4 linked regions of the Homo sapiens genome follow. The protein of the gene in region 4 interacts with the protein of the main gene of each other region in a biochemical or structural test. Each region holds a gene or a part of one and is shown on either strand. Other genes may lie near its edges. The genes, in order: PTPRC, PTPN12, GNA13 and CDH2.

What was found.
Region 1: of the proteins of CDH2 (region 4) and PTPRC, one has a biochemical effect on the other in vitro, tested with the Homo sapiens proteins (one large-scale study listed by IntAct).
Region 2: of the proteins of CDH2 (region 4) and PTPN12, one has a biochemical effect on the other in vitro, tested with the Homo sapiens proteins (one large-scale study listed by IntAct).
Region 3: the proteins of CDH2 (region 4) and GNA13 form a complex in vitro, tested with the Homo sapiens proteins (one study listed by BioGRID).

What each region holds. Positions count from the first base shown.
Region 1 is NC_000001.11:198,715,158-198,719,882, forward strand, and holds part of PTPRC (receptor-type tyrosine-protein phosphatase C isoform 1 precursor), read left to right. Parts: intron 1-1,524; coding exon 1,525-1,683; intron 1,684-2,936; coding exon 2,937-3,145; intron 3,146-4,725. UniProt on the Homo sapiens protein: Protein tyrosine-protein phosphatase required for T-cell activation through the antigen receptor. Acts as a positive regulator of T-cell coactivation upon binding to DPP4.
Region 2 is NC_000007.14:77,598,880-77,603,604, reverse strand, and holds part of PTPN12 (tyrosine-protein phosphatase non-receptor type 12), read right to left. Parts: intron 2,942-4,725; coding exon 2,799-2,941; intron 1-2,798. UniProt on the Homo sapiens protein: Dephosphorylates a range of proteins, and thereby regulates cellular signaling cascades. Dephosphorylates cellular tyrosine kinases, such as ERBB2 and PTK2B/PYK2, and thereby regulates signaling via ERBB2 and PTK2B/PYK2.
Region 3 is NC_000017.11:65,014,546-65,019,270, reverse strand, and holds part of GNA13 (guanine nucleotide-binding protein subunit alpha-13), read left to right. Parts: intron 1-967; coding exon 968-1,018; intron 1,019-4,441; coding exon 4,442-4,725. UniProt on the Homo sapiens protein: Guanine nucleotide-binding proteins (G proteins) are involved as modulators or transducers in various transmembrane signaling systems.
Region 4 is NC_000018.10:27,987,670-27,992,394, forward strand, and holds part of CDH2 (cadherin-2 isoform 1 preproprotein), read right to left. Parts: intron 2,682-4,725; coding exon 2,428-2,681; intron 998-2,427; coding exon 855-997; intron 1-854. UniProt on the Homo sapiens protein: Calcium-dependent cell adhesion protein; preferentially mediates homotypic cell-cell adhesion by dimerization with a CDH2 chain from another cell. Cadherins may thus contribute to the sorting of heterogeneous cell types.

The sequences.
Region 1 (4,725 bases), on a different chromosome or scaffold from region 4:
TGTCGCCCAGGCTGGAGTGCAGTCATGCGATCTCGGCTCACTGCAAGCTCCGCCTCCCAGGTTCACGCCATTCTCCCGCCTCAGCCTCCCTAGTAGCTGGGACTACAGGCGCCCGCCACCACGCCCGGCTAATTTTTTTGTATTTTTAGTAGAGACGGGGTTTCACTGTGTTAGCCAGGATAGTCTGGATCTCCTGATCTCGTGTGATCCGATCCGCCCGCCTCGGCCTCCCAAAGTGTGTTTGTTTATTTTTCCTCACATTTTTAGCTTAAGATATTTTGGAGAACTGCAGTTTTATCTCGTTAACTTAATGATGGCAAGTGACAGTGAAGCTTCTTGGTAATTGGGGAATTGGGGAAGAGATCTTTTGTGCTTTATTGGATTTAAAGGATTATTTTTCAAAAGTTACTGAAAGCAATAGGCACCTTTCAAGACCACCATGATGTTGCTGGAAATTATTTTGTGTAATGCCTTTTATTTTTTTAAGAAAAAAAAAACAGAACAAATTGCTTAATCTCTCTGTGGCTCAGTTTTGTCATCTGTAAAATCAGATGATAGTGAGTACCAACTAATAGTTGCAGTGATGGTTAAATTAATTATTTCATGTATACCCCTTGAAACAGTGCTTGGCACATACAGTGAGTTATTATTTTTAAAAATCGTTATTGATATTATTATTACTGTTGCTGCTATCCAGAAACATGTTGCCACTCTAATCATCCTCTTTCCTGATGTCACTTGGCTACTCAAAAATAGCAGCAGCTGGTGATTTTTTTACTTAACAAGTGCTAAGTCTTCTGCCTGAGTGTGAAAACACACTTAGACACTGTCCTACCTCTCATATGCCTCCCCAGCCAGAGCTGTTGTCCTGATCAGGTTTGTCACTAAACTCAAAAACATTCCTTCTTCCGTTTGTAATATTTTCTTTTCTCCCTTACATGTATTCAGTTCCACTTACCTTTCAATGAACAGCTGAATTCCACTTCCGGCATGAAACTCCCTCATTCTCACAGCTCCCGTTAATTACTGTAGTGTCCAAATTACTATGATAGAATCAACCCAATGACTGATGATCAAATGGATTCTGCATCTAACATTCAAAACAGTAGCTAATACCGATGTTCAAAGTTTGGAGGTTACATATCAGAAAAGGTTTTCTAAAAAAGAATCATTCTGAAACATGCAACTCAAGACTTACAGTATACACTGGGGGCTGTGTTTTCTCAGAAACAAAAGAGATCGTCTTCACAAATGAATCTGAACTTATTAAATATTTTATGTACCAAATTAATGATATAAAACCATAATTTTTCAATATTTAATTTTACCAATGATAATTGAGTTTGTTCAATACACTGGCTGATAATTGTAGGTACTTTTGAGTATCAAGGATGTACTTATTTTTCAATCACTCAATAGTTTGGAGTTCACTTGGAACAATGTGATGTAGAGACCAAATTAATTAGGTACGTGGTAGTACTGACTTTTAACGACTTACTAATTTTTTTTCACATTTTTCCTCAGAAAAAGATTGCCTCAATCTGGATAAAAACCTGATCAAATATGATTTGCAAAATTTAAAACCTTATACGAAATATGTTTTATCATTACATGCCTACATCATTGCAAAAGTGCAACGTAATGGAAGTGCTGCAATGTGTCATTTCACAACTAAAAGTGCTCGTAAGTTATATGTTTTAATGCTTCTTTCCATAAATGGTAAAAAGCAAGGTATGAACTTTTTAGCCTACAATATTTCTATCTTTATTCTAGCAAGCACATTTACCTGGCACATTTGTTAACATCTAGGGCTTATAAACACGTAAAATCTAAAAGTTTAAAAACCGTTATCCTGGATTCTCTCTCTTCTTCAGATATAGTCATAGAATTTTAAGGACAAAGCATAAAAGCATCTTAATTGGCATCAGTTTGTGCAATTTCATGCAGTTAAGTACTTAACCAACTTAGATTAAAACATTCACTGTTTGCTGTTGTCTTTACTATCTGGAAATATTAATTGTAATCAGAAACCTAACAATGTCTCATAAAGCATTAGCCTACTAACCTCTGTTCATCTGATAAAACATTTCATAAAATGTAATATTTTATTAGCATTTTCTTCTCTTCGTTACCCTCAACTACTTACTATTCTATTTTATGTCACATTATCCATTTAAGGTTTCCTTTCAATGGCATTTGGCTCTTGCCACTAGTATAATCTCTCCATAGTTTCCAGGCCCAAAGTTAGATCTGCTTCTGGGGCACATGTTAACCTCCATCGAGGACAGGGAAGAAGAAATGCCGTGTTTTAAGGCAGCATCTATAGCTCCAGAGACCCTAACGGGCACTAGACTTGTGAAGAAATATTGTGCTATTTGGGGCTGAATATAAGACACTTTTAAGGTCATTTAGGTTTTGGTTTGAAAAGTTCTGGTCCTGGAGCTCTATGCTTTTGTTGTTTTCCTGAGTTTCTGTATCACAGAAAAAGAAGACAATTTGTTTCTGTTCCTGAAGAACCCATCTAGGTGTTTACCAGGATAACATTAGCACTCCGGGAAAGAAGGGTCTAGATTGTGTAATAGGACTTGGAGGTTTCCCAATCAACAACATTTTTCCTCTCCTCTCCCCAAACTTCCCCCTCTTCCCCACTCCCTTCCCTTTTTCTCTATTCTCTAATTCTACACAGTCTCCTTCAGGGATTGCAATAACTCTCATGGCTTCATGTACAACCTATATGCTAATACTTACTGAATAAATGAGTGATTTATTCTTCAGGGTTTTGATATTGTTTTTTAATTTATGTACTATCATAACTTCCTTATTTATAACCCCCAAGCTAACACTTAAAATACTTTATACTATATCCAAGTATTGTCAAGTAATTTACATATGCATCTATTAAATTATTAATAACAAATCTTTCTTCATTTTGATAGCTCCAAGCCAGGTCTGGAACATGACTGTCTCCATGACATCAGATAATAGTATGCATGTCAAGTGTAGGCCTCCCAGGGACCGTAATGGCCCCCATGAACGTTACCATTTGGAAGTTGAAGCTGGAAATACTCTGGTTAGAAATGAGTCGCATAAGAATTGCGATTTCCGTGTAAAAGATCTTCAATATTCAACAGACTACACTTTTAAGGTAAAAGTATGCTCTCTACATTACTATAGTACCAACTACATTATAATGATTGATTCATAGTACTTAAATAACTTTAAGACCACTGCTCACATGAGATTGAGAAGCTCTGATGTGTAATGGAATCACACTTAAAGAGTCTCAAATATTTGACTCTAAAATTTTTATTCCTATAGCTCAAGTCAGTGGTTTAAAGCAAATGTTTCATTGGAATATTTTAGAACTTCAATATGACTTAATTATAGCTAAATTATTGCTTCTGTGTTAAGAAGCACAACACTTTATGCACAACAGATTATTACTTTACCAAATCTACCTTTTCTTTACTTTGGCTTTTTATCTTTATTAATGTGGAATTTTTCAATTGCAAAATTTCACAGGTACCTTGAGGTTAGGAAATATTTGAAATAAACACTAGACAATACTAGTGAGCATACAGAATTTAAAACACTCATTATCTCACTGTCTACTGATCGTATTTTGTACATGTAACTTCATAATATACACATTTATATGCACTTAACACGTATTATCAACATTCTGAGTACACAGTTTTCAAAATACAGTTTTAAAACTGTATTTTTAATATATCACTATATCACACACACCTTTCTATGTTAAATATTTAACTACTATGTAGTTTTTAATGCCTGTATAATATTCTATGTATGGCTTTATCACATTCTATTAACTATAACTATGTTGGTCTCTAATATAAACAACATTCCGATAACACACTTATTGGTAAAGCAAAATTTTTGAATGTCTTTAATAATTTATGTTTCATAAATTCCTAAAAATGCATTTATTGGGTCAAAATGTATTTTGAGGCTTTTTGGATATGTAACTTTTTTTTTCTATAAAATTTACCAAATTGCCCTGGTGTATCAGTGTATGAAATGACTGCTTCTTGAGAGGCTCACCAACACTGAATACGCCTTTCTTTTTCTTTATTTGGTGGTTGAAATATGGTATTGATATCTTTCTTTTAATGAAGTTTCTTTACTTATTGTTCTTTGTGTTATTCTTTGCCTCTTTTATCCAGTTTTCTCCGGAGAAATGCCTTGAATATTAATGATATTAAACTCTTTGTCACATGCGTAAAAATGTTATCAGTTTATAATTTGCCTTTTAGTTTTCTTCACAGCACTTTGTCTTACATAATTCCCCTTTTTATTTTTAAACAAATGTATCTGTCACTTTTATTCCTGTTAAATAGAAATTTCCATAGTTAATTTTTTAATATGATGTTGACAAACGGCCTCATATTCTTTTTTTGTTTTGTTTTGTTTTGTTTTGTTTGTTTGTTTTGTTGTTGTTTTTTGTTTTGAGAGGGAGTCCTGCTCTGTCACCCAGGCTGGAGTGTGGTGGCGTGATCTCGGCTCACTGCAACCTCCGCCTCCCGGGTTCAAATGATTCTCCTGCCTCAGCCTCCTGAGTAGCTGGGATTACAGGCACCTGCCACCACACCTGGCAAATTTTTGTATTTTCAGTAGAGATAGGTTTTCACCATGTTGGCCAGGCTGGTCTGGAACTCCTGACCTCAAGTAATCCGCCTGCCTCAGCCTCCCAAATTGTTGGGA
Region 2 (4,725 bases), on a different chromosome or scaffold from region 4:
AGCATTTAAACTGCTGTTTAAAATAGTTGAGGCGGAGGTTGCAGTGAGCCGAGATTGTGCCACTGCACTCCAGCCTGGGCAACAAGAGCAAAACTCCGTCAAACAAAATAAAACAAAACAATACTGTATGTACACATACACACACTGAAAGGACACATTCTCGAGTTTTAACAATGGTTATCTCCAGTGGAACTAGTGGAAAGCAAAAGAATTTTCTTGCTTTTATGGATGTGTTTTCTAAGTCCTTACAGTTAACGTACTGTTTTGATTGTCTAAAAATATTTAACGGTCAATTTAGTTTTTGATGAAAAGCCTTCCTATACAAATGGATTTATGATTGAACAGGAAATTATTTTAACTAACTTATAAGAAGTCAAAGTGAAAGCAATTTCTTTATCTTTTAATTCTATAATTAAACATATTGTTTATTTTTAACTGGTCAATCCTACTTAATTAAATGGTCAACTAACCACTGAATTAACCACAGAAAAAAATAGTTTTAATGAACCAAGTTGTTAACTGATTCCCACATCTCCACCAGCAAGTTACTTTCCTGGCCCATGAATAAAAAGTAGCCCTTTTACTTCGTTAATTATGAGCATTACGGTCAAACCAAGTGAATAAGAAAACTATCTTCAATGCTTCAACTCCACTGAAAAAATATTTTAACTATGTAAATAATAAAAAATAAATCTCTTAAGTTTGAAAAATCTCATTTACTTTTTATAACAAATGTGAATGCAGATAACAAGTCCCTTAGAGGAATAAATTGATAGCAGTCTTATGAAGTAAGTACTATGACTGTAAGGCCTTTAGAAGAATCTAATGTAAACTAAAAATTCAGAGTAGAAAAACTGTCTAAGGATTCAAGTAGCTTCTACTATGTAGAAACCCATACCTATATAATGAAATTCCAAAAATTAGGTTTCAAAATATCCTGTATCACCCATATTATAATGATACCTATATTCTTTTTTTTTTTTTAAAAGATAGGGTCTACTATGTCACCCAGGCTGGAGTGCAGTAGTGTAATTGGTGTCTACTGCAGCCTCAAAGTTCTGGGCTCAAGCAATCATCCTGCCTCGGCCTCCCAAAGCACTGAGCCACTATACCCGGTCATGACACTTATTGCAAACATTTATTATTTTCTTGACTAATTCAGTTTTGTGCTTTTCCTCTTAAAGGGGTATTTTCCATTACACTCCTAAATCCATAATACAAATTTAGCTTTGTTTTATGTATTACATATAATGTATACATATACATATATGTGCATATGTATTATGTATATTTAGCTTTGTATTATTTGTATGAGAATGACCAGATGACAGAAATAAGCCAAAATGTTAGATTAAGAAAAGTTGGTTATCTTAAACTGATTTCTCTTAGCTAAAATATATTATACATTAACCCCCCTTCTAGAATACAAAATTAACTGCCCCCCAAGAATAAACAAATCTCATGTTCATTCCCCCAAAGTCAAAGGAAGAGTTTACATGATTTCTTAACACATCCAAACGAGTAATTTTGCAAAACCTAACTGAACTTCAAATATTATTTGAATAAATGAAAAGATTTATATTGTGCAATTTAAAGTAGGTGCACCTATACTTGTCCTTTCACATTCAGAGGTAGCTTAACTAGGTCAGTAATCATTGAATTTTATGTAATCCTTATAATGAAGTAATCTACTATAAAACATAATAAAAATGTCTAGTAAATGTGTATCAATAGTTTTTATTACTTTACTACAAGAATGCTTGCTTCCGGCTTTAAATTTTTCAGTAGCTATAAATTATAAAATTTCATGATATGACAGGAAGTGGTGCAAACGTGGAAACTGATGTTCCCCAAGAATAAAAACAGCATTTAGTTTTTCATCAAACTAAAACACACTTTTTCATCTCAATGTAACAGCTCTGAGATTGGTATGTATCTTACCACCAATGGCTTCTTACAAATGACATTGTCCCCTTATAATTGGCAGTGATTTTTTTACTGTTAATATATATAATAATGGTGTGTCTTAGAATTGATGATATCTTAGATCAATAAGACCTACGTATGTACATCTTACATATATTAAAAAAAGAAAGTCATGTTGCCAGGCGTAGTGGCTCACGCCTGTAAGCCCAAGACTCTGGGAGAGCAAAGTGGGAGAATCACTTGAGGACAGGAGTTCGGATCAGCCTGGGCAACAGAGCAAGACTTGGTCTCTTAAAAAAAATTTTTTTTAATTAAAAAAAATTAGTTCAGTGTGGTAGCACATGCCTGTAGTCCTAGCTACTTGGGAAGCTGAGGCAGAAGGATCACGTCAGGCCAGGAGTTTGAGTTTACAGTAAGCTATGATTGTGCCACTGCACTCCAACCTGGGCATCAGAGCAATATCCTGTTTTTAAAAATCTCATGTCAGTGTTTATCAGGAATGAAAATTGCTTGGTCATTGTTTCAGGGAAATTGATTAAAAGAAAATACTACCATACTGACTTTAGAAAGTAGAGTATGATGAGGATCTGAGATTATATGCTCTAATCAGTGAACAGTAAAAAGAGTATGTTCTATAGCTTCCCACCATGTGAATACTATTTTCAAATAGATGATCCTGTGTTTTAATGCAACAATACTCTAAACGGTCTGTCAACCAAATGAGACCACATCAACTTACAAGGCCCTAGTCCCAAACATTGTATCAAGGCTAGGAGAAATTCAAGATTACTAACATATTAATGCAGAAATAAAACCTTGTGTAACATCAAACTTAAATAATGTATTTATAAACTTGGGAAATTCTTTTGTACCTGCAATGAATACAAATAGGAACATCTTCATGTTCTTGATATTTCCTCATTAAGCTTATCATGTCCAGAATAGAATCAAATGATGAAGGAACATCATGGTCTGGCCAGTTCACATAATGAAACTGATACAGCCTACGAGATTCCTTCAAGAAAAACAGAAAGTCAACAATTATGAAAATACTTTGCAAAGTTTAAAGTTGCACAGCTCATTTAAACTGCCATTTCTAAGAAATTTGTGTGGCATTTAGCACTGCTTTTAAAAAAACCCAAATAAATAATAGCCAACACTTATTGACTGTTAAACACATGCCAAATACCTAAGGGCTTCACATGTAACAATTTAATTTCCATGAGGAAAGTACTGTTAATACCATCCTCATTTTATAACTGAGATATACAGATAAAATAACTTGCCCAAACTTTCCTAAGAAGTGACAAGTGTGGGCTCTAAACCAGGCAGTTCTACTTCCAGAGCATGTACTGTAAACATAACACTATATATACTATTTAACTAATCTACACTATTAAATGGATGAGCAATATACCGTAAGCACCATGTTAGAGTAGGTTAGAGTAGTATTCATTGTAATCAGAAGACTAACAGAACATTAAACTGAAAAAGAATGGAGAGATGAATTTGTCCAATGCCAAACTCACTAGTCTTCTTACAGATTAGTGGTTCTCAATATACGGTCTGGGTACCCCCTCCCCTCAACCCTTTTGAGGGAGTCTATGAGCTTTAAATAATTCTCAGAATAATACTAAAATGTTACGTGCCTTATTCTTTAACAGCCAATACAATATATGCTTATGTATTCATGTTTTTTAAAAATTTCTCAGTTTTAATTTCAAATATAGTATATACTGAAAGATACAACCCCCAGAAACAAAAACTTTGGGATCCTCAATAACTTTGAAGAATGTAAAGGAGTACTGATGTCAAATGTTTTGAGAATGGTTATTGCAGGTGTTTAACAGAAAGAGCAATACTCGGAATCTAAGCAAACCATACTCAAATTCCTACTTTGGCCATTTCCTAAATAACTTCAGGTAAGCTATTTAACTTCTTAAAGCTTCTGTATCTTCATCTATGTGCAACAGACGTAACAGTATCTGGATATGATGCAGTTAGCAGAATTAAGATGCCTGATCTACCACAGAAATTCATTAAGGTACTTATTATTATTACCGTAGATTAAAAAATTAGCAACCAGTCCAGATTCAGTGGCTCACATCTGTAATCCCAACACTTTGGGTGGCCAATGCAAAAGGCAAGATCACTCAAGGCCAGGAATTTGACAGCAGCCTGAGCAACATGGCAAGACTTCATCTCTATAAACTATAAAAAATTTAGCTGGGTTTGGTGGCTCATCCCTATAGTCTCAGATACTAGGAAGGTGGAGATGGGAGGACTGCTTGAGCTCAGGAGTTTGAGTCCAGCCTGGGCAATATATAGTGAGACCCTGTTGCCAAAAAAAAAAAAAAAAAAGTCGGGGCGCTGTGGGGGGTTTCAACTAAAAACAATATATATCTAAATGAAGACTTAGCTTTGATAGTGACTTTTCTTTAACAAATTGTAAACCAGTAAAACAGGGTAATAATTATATAAACAATGCAATAACCTGCTTACTGCAATAGAATAAAAATATTTGCTGCAAAGAAGGTATAACTATTCCAAATTTAACAAATTTAGGGTATGTTATAATTAATATTACTTTTTATGTAATGTGATAAGCATAAATGTCAAGACTAAATATTACACTCTCATTTCATCTTCGTAACTAAAAAATTACCAAATTTCATTAATTATGTTAAATAACATAGTATACTATTTATATAGCTTGTTTTATTTTTTTAGTAGCTAAAAGTTGATTAGTTTGCAAAGACAAAAACTAACTTCACATGCTTTAAAAATAAAAATTGCTGT
Region 3 (4,725 bases), on a different chromosome or scaffold from region 4:
CAAAAAATTATAGAACTGCTACTTTCAAGCTTTGTGACTCAAAGTGTGGTCCCAGGCACTCCTTGAATTGCAGAAACTGGGGTCCCACCCAGACCTACTAAACCGGAGCCTGCAGTGTGAGGAGATCTTCACATGATGCCCAGGCATACTAAATGAGGTGCTGCTTCAGGAACACTTGGAAGTAGCTTCAGGCAGGGACAATGCTGCAGCTGTAGAATCCCGCGGGAAAGTGAAACGCAGGGGGTGAGGACTAGGAGACTCGGACACAGACCCCTTCTTTCCCAAAATAGTTCCCCTCTTCTCTGTGTGCTCTGGTCAAGCGTTTTCATGTTAGGAATGTATTCTCGTACAGTTTAGATGTTTGAAATTGCTTGGAAGTTTCGTCGAGAAAACTGGGCTCAGAAAGGATAGGCCACTCGGGAAAAGACCTGTTGGAGATGTGAAGCTGGCAGCACTATCCAGGGCCTTCCTGAGCAAGGCACGCCTGTCCATGCCTGTGGTTGGGGGATTTTGTACAGTATTCTTACCTCATCTCTGGTTTGGTTTGTCTCTGAAGATAACTATCGTCACTATTAAGCTAGAAAATGTAGACAAAAAGACTGTCACTTAAATTTTATATGTAGATTTATGTTTTATCTCAAAAGCAGTTTTCATCTTCTAATTATATGTCTTCACTGTGGATACGTAGTTATAGCAAAAAGCATGCGTGTAATCCTGTCCAAGCAGATGATCACTTGGGATATTGATTCTATTAAGCATTTGTGAAATCAGCCTGCCTTTGCAGATTTAGCAGTCTGTGACAGAGCAGACGTTTTATATGTTTTTAGGAAGGTTAGCTGTCTGAAATTGGTGACTAAACAAAGTCTGTTTGGGTTAAGTGTACAACCAGACAGTATGATGTAAACTGTTGTAACAAGATCTTCCATTTCTAAGCCCTAATAACTATTTGTTTTCTTCTTGTTTTTAGGGTGAATCTGTAAAATATTTCCTGGATAACTTGGATAAACTTGGAGAACCAGTAAGTGTTTAAACCAAATGTTTATGTTTAGTGCCATTTGAAAGCAGAAGTCAGGATATCGATGTTAGGAAATTTAGAAAAATTATGTATTAAGCTATTTGCTTCTTTCTCTCTTTTTTTTTTTTTTTTTTTTTTTTTTTTTTTTTTTTTTTTTTTTTTTAGTGGTGGCGTTCTGATTCTTCTCTGCTTTATTTAGAGTGATTGGTAGCTCAGAATATTGAATGATTTTTATTTTTTCAAAATGAAAGTATTTTTATTGTTTAATCACGACACTTCTTTTTTCTCCCTCTAACTGTCCAGGTCTCTACCATTTTCTTGAGGAATGCTTTGTCTGCTATTTCTTGGAAGTAAAACTGTTTAGAGAAAGAAGTTTGTGTTTGAAGATGATATTGTGCATTATCTGTTATACTTTAGTATCTTTAGAGGTTTTTGTTTGTAAACAGAAATAGAACACAGTGGGTTGACTGATTTCCAAATCTTTTGACAAATGACATTTTCGAATTCATGCCCCCTTTGTGTCGAGTCACGGAGTAGGAGGGCTAGATTTAAAAGGCTGAAGAGACTCCACGAGGTAGGGGGAGTCGCCCTTGAAAAGAGAGTCTATCATTTTCCTGTAGGTATTCCTCGGAGCCAGCAGCTCTAAGCTGGCGCTGTGGCCAGCGGGGCCCACTGCAGGCAGAGCATCTCGCTTGTTTGACCTCTGTATTGGGCGTACACAGAAGAGTTCAGTGGGAGAAAGGTTTCTGCTGCTTAGGAAAATTTTGAAAGCCATTGCCTTAGAGTCATCTGTTACTCTCTAAATGTAGCACAGCTTCATTTGCCTCCTCATAAGGCAGGTTTCTTCTTCTTCACACAGCTAGTATGTGTGTGTCCTCATCAACATACTCTGCTCTGCCAGACTATTTAGCACTCGATTGCATGAAGTTCTGTGCTTCATGTGAAGCAGCCTTTAGATTGCTAACTAGATTATTAGCTTTAATAGAGACAAAGACAATAATAGAGAACTTTTTATTTTTATGGAATTACATTTTTTAAAAGCTCAGGGCCCGGCGTGTTTCTGAAGGAGCTGGCATAGGTGTATGTTGTAAATTGGTATTGCCTTCTAGAAAGCAGTCGGGTGTTAAGTATCCAGAGTCATTAAAATGTTTGTAACCTTTAACGTCATAATCGTACCCCTGATTATTTTAATCTTAGGAAATAGTCCAAAGGAAAAAAAAAATGTGCATGAGAATTTTAATTGCAGTATTTCTGTTAATTATGGCTAAAAATTGGAAACAACCTTAATGACCACTAGTAGGGGAATGTTAATGTAAAGTACAGCACGTTAATGCATTTGGTGTATTTTCTTGTCTTTTAAAATGAGGTATGATTGTATCAGCATATGGAACAGTTCACAAAATATTAAGCAAAAATGCAGAGGTAGGCTGAACGCTGTGTGCATATGCTGATTATAAATAAAGCAGGCGTGTATCTGAACAAAGCTAGAAGAAAACATGGAAAAGCTAACACTTGAGTCCTAGAGTTATTTAATGAATGGCTGTTGGTTGCCAGTAACTAAGAACCCACCTACTTTTAAAAAACTCTGAATTCTGGCCGGGTGCAGTGGCTCACGCCTATAATCCGAGCACATTGGGAGGCTGAGGCGGGAGGATCACTTGAGGTCAGGAGTTCGAGACCAGCCTGGCCAAAATGGTGAAACCCCGTCTTTACTAGAAATACAAAGAAGTAGCCGGCCGTGGTGGTGCACACCTGTAATCCCAGCTATTCGGGAGGCTGAGGAGCAGAATCGCTTGAACCTGGGAGGCGCAGGTTGCAGTGAGCCGAGATTCCGCCACTGCACTCCAATCTGGGCAACAGAGCAAGACTCCATCTCAAAAAAATATGTATATATATATATTCTTAATTCCATTGCACCATTTTGAGACAATGAGTATTCTTGTAATGAAATTTCAAAATCATATGACACTATTCAGAAAGGCATAAAGTGCAGCATTGTGAATAACAGCATTGTTTTAAATCCTGCCTTGATTTTTAAAATATTTTGACCTTGATGATAAATATTAGCTGTCCCGTTCATGTATTACCAGAAAGTTGTGTTGTAGTTTTGGAAAAATGCTAGACTGACAAGGAAGAACCAGTTACATTGCATAAGGAAGTGTGCCATCACAGAGTAGCCAGAGACTTGTGTGACCAGCAGCTTCTGTTTGTTCAGGGTCTTAGAGTTCACTGACCAAGAGTGCAGAGAAGAGCTCATTTGATCCTTGCAACAACCCTCCCTCCCAGGTATATAGACCAAGTGTGATCACCTCCATTTCACAGACAGAGGTGCTGACACTCAGAGTAAGTGACTAGTTTGAGTTCTTGGGTCAATAAGTAAGAAATTAATTATAGTAGAGAAAGGATTTTTCACACATGTAATATAGCAGCAATGAAAACATAGAAGTTTTAAGTCATGAGTGGGGTTGCACAGTAAAAGAACTTTTAGAATAGGTTAGAGAGAGGTGGGCAGAACTTGGAACTGGGAAGTGATCCTTGTGAATTGGCACTGGAATCAGATCCCATTGCCTTTTTTTTTTTTTTTTTTTTTTTTAAGACAAAGTCTTGCTCTGTCACCCAGGCTGGAGTGCAGTGGCATGATCTCAGCTCACTGCAAGCTCCACCTCCTGGGTTCACACCACTCTCCTGCCTCAGCCTCCCAAGTAGCTGGGACTACAGGCGCCCGCCACCACACCTGGCTAATTTTTTTGTATTTTTAGTAGAGATGGGGTTTCACTGTGTTAGCCAGGATGGTCTCAATCTCCTGACCTCGTGATCTGCCCGTCTCGGCCTCCCAAAGTGCTGGAATTACAAGCGTGAGCCATCGCGCCCAGCCCCCATTGCTTTTAATAGAGGAGCAAGGAGCAGTGTGGAGAAGGTAGATACGCAGACAGGAAGATCACTCTGGCTAGAACCAAGAGTGGCTGATAGTGGGGAGTAAGATTGCAGGTGGATATATAGCAGTGAGGGTGGGTAAGAACAATTGATAAGACTTCAGCTTAAATTTTGAGTAGTATTGCAGGGATGAAAACAAGTAGATTCTGGCCATTTGTAGTAAATTTTGAACCCGTCCTGCTAACATTTTAATGTATCTTGGCTTTTGTTGTGGGGAGCACAAGTGGGTCTTGCTATATTGCCCAGGATATTCTCAAACTCCTGGCTTCGCAAGCGATCCTCCTGCCTCAGCCTCCCAAAGTGCTGGGATTATAGGCATGACCCACCATGTCTGACCAGTCTTGGCATTTTATAATAAGCATAATCTATCTGAAAATGTCACTTAAAAGATCATTTTGTTTGCATATCTATTCACTAGTCCAGTTAGTAGTCCATTAAAAATTCGCATTACTTCGGGATTAATAGGTATAAAACAAGTTTTTTCTTTTCCAGGATTATATTCCATCACAACAAGATATTCTGCTTGCCAGAAGACCCACCAAAGGCATCCATGAATACGACTTTGAAATAAAAAATGTTCCTTTCAAAATGGTTGATGTAGGTGGTCAGAGATCAGAAAGGAAACGTTGGTTTGAATGTTTCGACAGTGTGACATCAATACTTTTCCTTGTTTCCTCAAGTGAATTTGACCAGGTGCTTATGGAAGATCGACTGACCAATCGCCTTACAGAGTCTCTGAACATTTTTGAAACAATCGTCAATAACCGGGTTTTCAG
Region 4 (4,725 bases):
TTGAGTGGTTAGTTCGTGTCAGCCACTGTTTCAAATGCTTCATATATATGTAGAAGTCATTACATTTTAGTTAAAACACTGAGTTAGGTGCTGATACGTATCTATTTAACAAAAAAAGGAAACAGATATATTTAAAACCTCATGGCAATCCCACAGATTCAAAGTGGGAAAGCCGGAGTCTGCACCTGGGGGTCCTGTAGAACTCCAGAGCTTGAAGTCTGAAACACACATCGTACTGAGAGCTAACGAAGCAAAATAAGCCCCTCATCAGGTTTACAAAAGTCCCCTTTATATTACATATCTGAAAAAAGTCCTTATCTATTAATCTTAACCAATGAGAAACCAGCAGAGACTCAGAAAGGAAAAAAAGGTGCTACATATGTATTCTAAAACCCATACCCTGAAGCTCACTACTCACTTATCTCAATTTATGCACAAAATTAAGTTTCCTAGCCCATGGCAGACAGAGGCAGAGAATTATAAAAAGGAAGACTGATAGAGATGCACATATGAAAGGCAACAGAGTGACTAGAAGACATATAAAAAGAGCCACTGAAAAAACCCAGTGTCTAGGGCCACTGAGGATGGACTTAAGGCATCAACATGTGACAGGACAATAAGATAACAAAGGTATGTCTACATGAACGATGGATGGACATCGAGAACAGTCATTGCAAAGACAGTGAAGGATGTTCCAGAACACCTGTCTGAAATGATAAATAAAAGCTGGACCTCGGAATTATAAAAGTCAGTTTTCCAGGCAATTGAGTTTTGTAGAAAACTTTAATTCCTGAGCATGCATGATGAGGATCTACTGTCTTTCATCAACATACAAGAAAAAACAGCGAACATACCATTGTCAGAAGCAAGGAAAGTAGCATTATATATATTGTTTTTCACATTTGGTGATTCTCGGTCCAAAACAGCAATTGTAGTTATTTGTCCATTCACAGGATCTATTTTTAGCCAATTGGCAGGATCAGATAATTTAGTGTATCTACAAAATGAAAGTGAAGTTTAATTTCTTTTTATGAAACTTTAAAAAAACATATTTTACAGGTTTAGTTCCAAATGCAACTGGCTCATTAACTTGCATTTCTGTAGATGATGGCTGGACATACAGCTTTAACAGGAAAAAGTATTTTTGTGACAGTGGTATTGGGAGGCACATAAAGGTTGTGTTTGGTCAGGCATGTAGGAAACATTCTACAGGTGTCTGAGGGACAAGACTAGGTGCACAGTCTCCCTAATGTGGGCTAAAGCAGATTGGAAAGTTATCATTTTAGGTTCTTGTCCACTTCAACAGATATCAATGGTTCAGGTAAAATAGCTTGAATATAGTTTCTAGATAAGCAGTAGTCTCAATGTACAGGAGTTAAGAGAAATTATAATAGAAATTGAATACTGCATCACAGAACACTCCTAAAACATTTTAACACTTTATCATGGCCAACATGAAGCCACACTGGAGAGACCACCATAATCCCATTCCTACTTGAATCTTTCACACTGGGCCAAGCCTCAGATCTATACCTTTGCAAAGAAAGTCCTACAGTCTTGAGTCTGAATTGGCAGATTTATCAGCTTAAATTCCTTTTTAAAATTTGGAGTGGGGATTAACTTTTAAAGATTAGATAACCAGTTGGATTGGAAAAGGTATGCTATGTTTGGAAAGGTACAAGTTGTAGGATTTCAATACATCTATTAACTGGCTATTTATTAATAGTTATCTTGATTTCAGTGAATAGAGAAATGGAGAACATTTAACATTTAATAAAAGATAACAATAGAAAGTTATCTTTTAGCAGCAGTTCTGTAAGAAGTTTAATGAAATATAAGTTCATTTTAAAAATGATCATCACCAGCTTTGGAGAACAGTCGCATGGGGTGTGCTCTGGCAACCATCCACTCCCTCATCAGAAAGGATAAATTACATTTTGCTGAGTTTGGAAATCTTTACAGATAGGTTTCATAAGTCCAATAACTACTGTACAGGTAAGGAATGAAAATAATTAACTCTTAGATCCTGGTTTTGGCATAAGCTTTCTTTCCTTCATGATGCATGGAGGAGAGATAAATGTTATAAGCCTCTGAAAGTTCCCTGCGGAACCTTTTTGTGATGTTTGGCATAAAGGCACAGGCTAAATAATTTTAAAGTATTTTTTAAGTAAAAATGGCAGATACAGAGAAACAAGAACAGCTTTTTCTTCAAATAGTAAATCCATTTTAATATGGATACAGATATCTATTTATATCTAATATAGTCATTGACTTACTGAGAAGAAAATTCAAAGAATTTTAAATTATCTTTTAATAAGTAGTTTTGATTGCAATGAAAATTTCTACTCAAATAGTGAATTAGATAAATTTTATGCACAGCATAGAACATAAGTAAGCTACAAAAACACTACAAACAGCATTTCATACCTAATATTTTGCTGCATATATCGATCTGGGTCCTGAGCAGTGAATGTTGTCAACATGGTACCGGCATGAAGCCCTTCTTCTTGGCGAATGATCTTAGGATTGGGGGCAAAATAAGGGTTTTCATTTACGTCAATAACTGTAACAGACACGGTTGCAGTTGACTGAGGGGGGTGCTGAATTCCCTTGGCTAATGGCACTTGATTTTCTGCAGCAACAGTAAGGACAAACATCCTATTTGTTTCAAAGTCGATTGGCTGGAAAATAAAAGGGAAGCCATATTTTTGCAGGAAATAAGAATGCTTGCATTCTGTAGTTTATTCCTCTATCAACTCCATTTCCAAAAAATTAATTTCTTCATTCACTACATAACAAGGTTCCTCTCAAGTTTCTGGAAAACATGCATTAGCATGGTCACTTATCAAAATATTTATCCCAATTTAACCTAATTATAAATCTTGAGTACTTAAAAGATTTATGTTCACAAAACAGTGCACATGATTACTGCACAGATTTATTTATTTAGGTACATCTAAAAACTTGATTATTCTTAAGAATAGCATTGTTGACTAAAAATACTAAATAATATAAAGTCAAGTGAGAACATGATGGTCTAAATGTATACTCTCAAACATTAGTACAAAGATCACTCCTCACCCAGGAAAGCTTTCACCAGTCTATGATGAATTGAAGAAAACAAACCAAAAATCAGAAAATGTAATTTTTAAATACAGCTAAACTTATTTGATTTAAAAGTACCTTTCATAATTTGAAGTACACATTTTGCAGTACAAACATGTATACATAATCGCACACACACCTTTTAAAAATAATACTGTTGGTAGGTGGAAGATATTTTTCTTTTCCTCTTAGCAAACTAAAACTCTGCTGTCTTCTGGAATATTTCTGGATATTTTATTGGTCTGTAAAACCCCCAAATTTAAGAAAAACACTCTAGATAAATGCAATGCACAAATAACCCTTCATGTAAATACTAACTTCCAAAGTTCACTGAATCTTGCTGTCACTAGAAATATTACCAGGAGTCAAATGACTAGACTGGACATTCACTCTTAATTTTCCTTGTTCACCTGCGAATGGATGTGCAAATAAGCATTACTGTGCAGTAATAACAGGAAAAACAAGAGCATTAAGATCTCTTAGGCTCATAATTGGTAGCCTAAGAATGATCGAGAGGTGACGCTCATAAGAAAGCTTCATTATCAGCAGAAACTGCACCAGTTTCGTACCCTAGACCACCTTTTAAAAATCTTCAAACACATCTTTTTTTCTCTCTAAATCCCCAATTCAACATTCCTTTCTCTAGTATTTTAAGCAAGACAGAAAAAAAGCCAGAAAGTTAAGACTGCAATATTTAGAGTGATTTCACTAGCCACACGAAACCTTCCCCTGATGTAACATTTATGCTAAGGGGTATATGCACAGTTCAAAGTCCTTTAATGTGTATGAAGCTCATTTATCTCTCAGAACACTATGACTAACATACTGTTATCAGCCCCTTTCTGCATAAGAAACCTAGAATTTACAGTGGTTAAATAGTTGGCCATGATCACACAGATATCAGGAGCAGAGCTGGGACTCTAACACAGACAGCAGACTCAAGTTGGTGCTTTTGATCACTATGTTCCTTCTGAGAGTTTCCATTCCCATTCTATTCTACTCCCGCATCTGCATAATTATTGGCAACTGGCACTTTAGCACATCTTTCTATGTAAGGTCAATATTTAGGTTCACTTACAAATCAAGAGTGCTTAAGTGGGAGGCAAAGAAGTAAATCTCTTTACTGGGTGGCTAAAAGGAAGGGATGTTCACTTTAACAGGCTTTTCCATTATAGCTACGCATTTATTATTCTTGAAGAACATCCCCTTGGCTTCTAGCATGCAACTGTTTTGTTTGGTTCCTTTTTGACCATAAGATCAGAAGAATACATTTCTTAACGTCTCGGAAATAGCATTTAAAAACAGCCATGCAAATGCAAGAGCTTTCTAAAATGCAGGCTTTCTTCTTGCCTACTCATTACATTTTTCTTCTATGGCTTTTCTGGTTTGTTCACTATCTGCCAATATTCTAATAGCTGTAGACATGAAAATAGCAGCTGTGAGGCATCATTCTTAATAGCTATCAATGGTGATCAAAATTTCAGAATGTGATATATCATGAATATATCAACTACACTAACAGTTAATGTTGTTCAGGCCAGTCCTATCCTCAGATTGGTAAAAACTGTCCAAACTGATTCAAAAACAATCATCAAAACTCTCACTCAAAACTCTCATTCA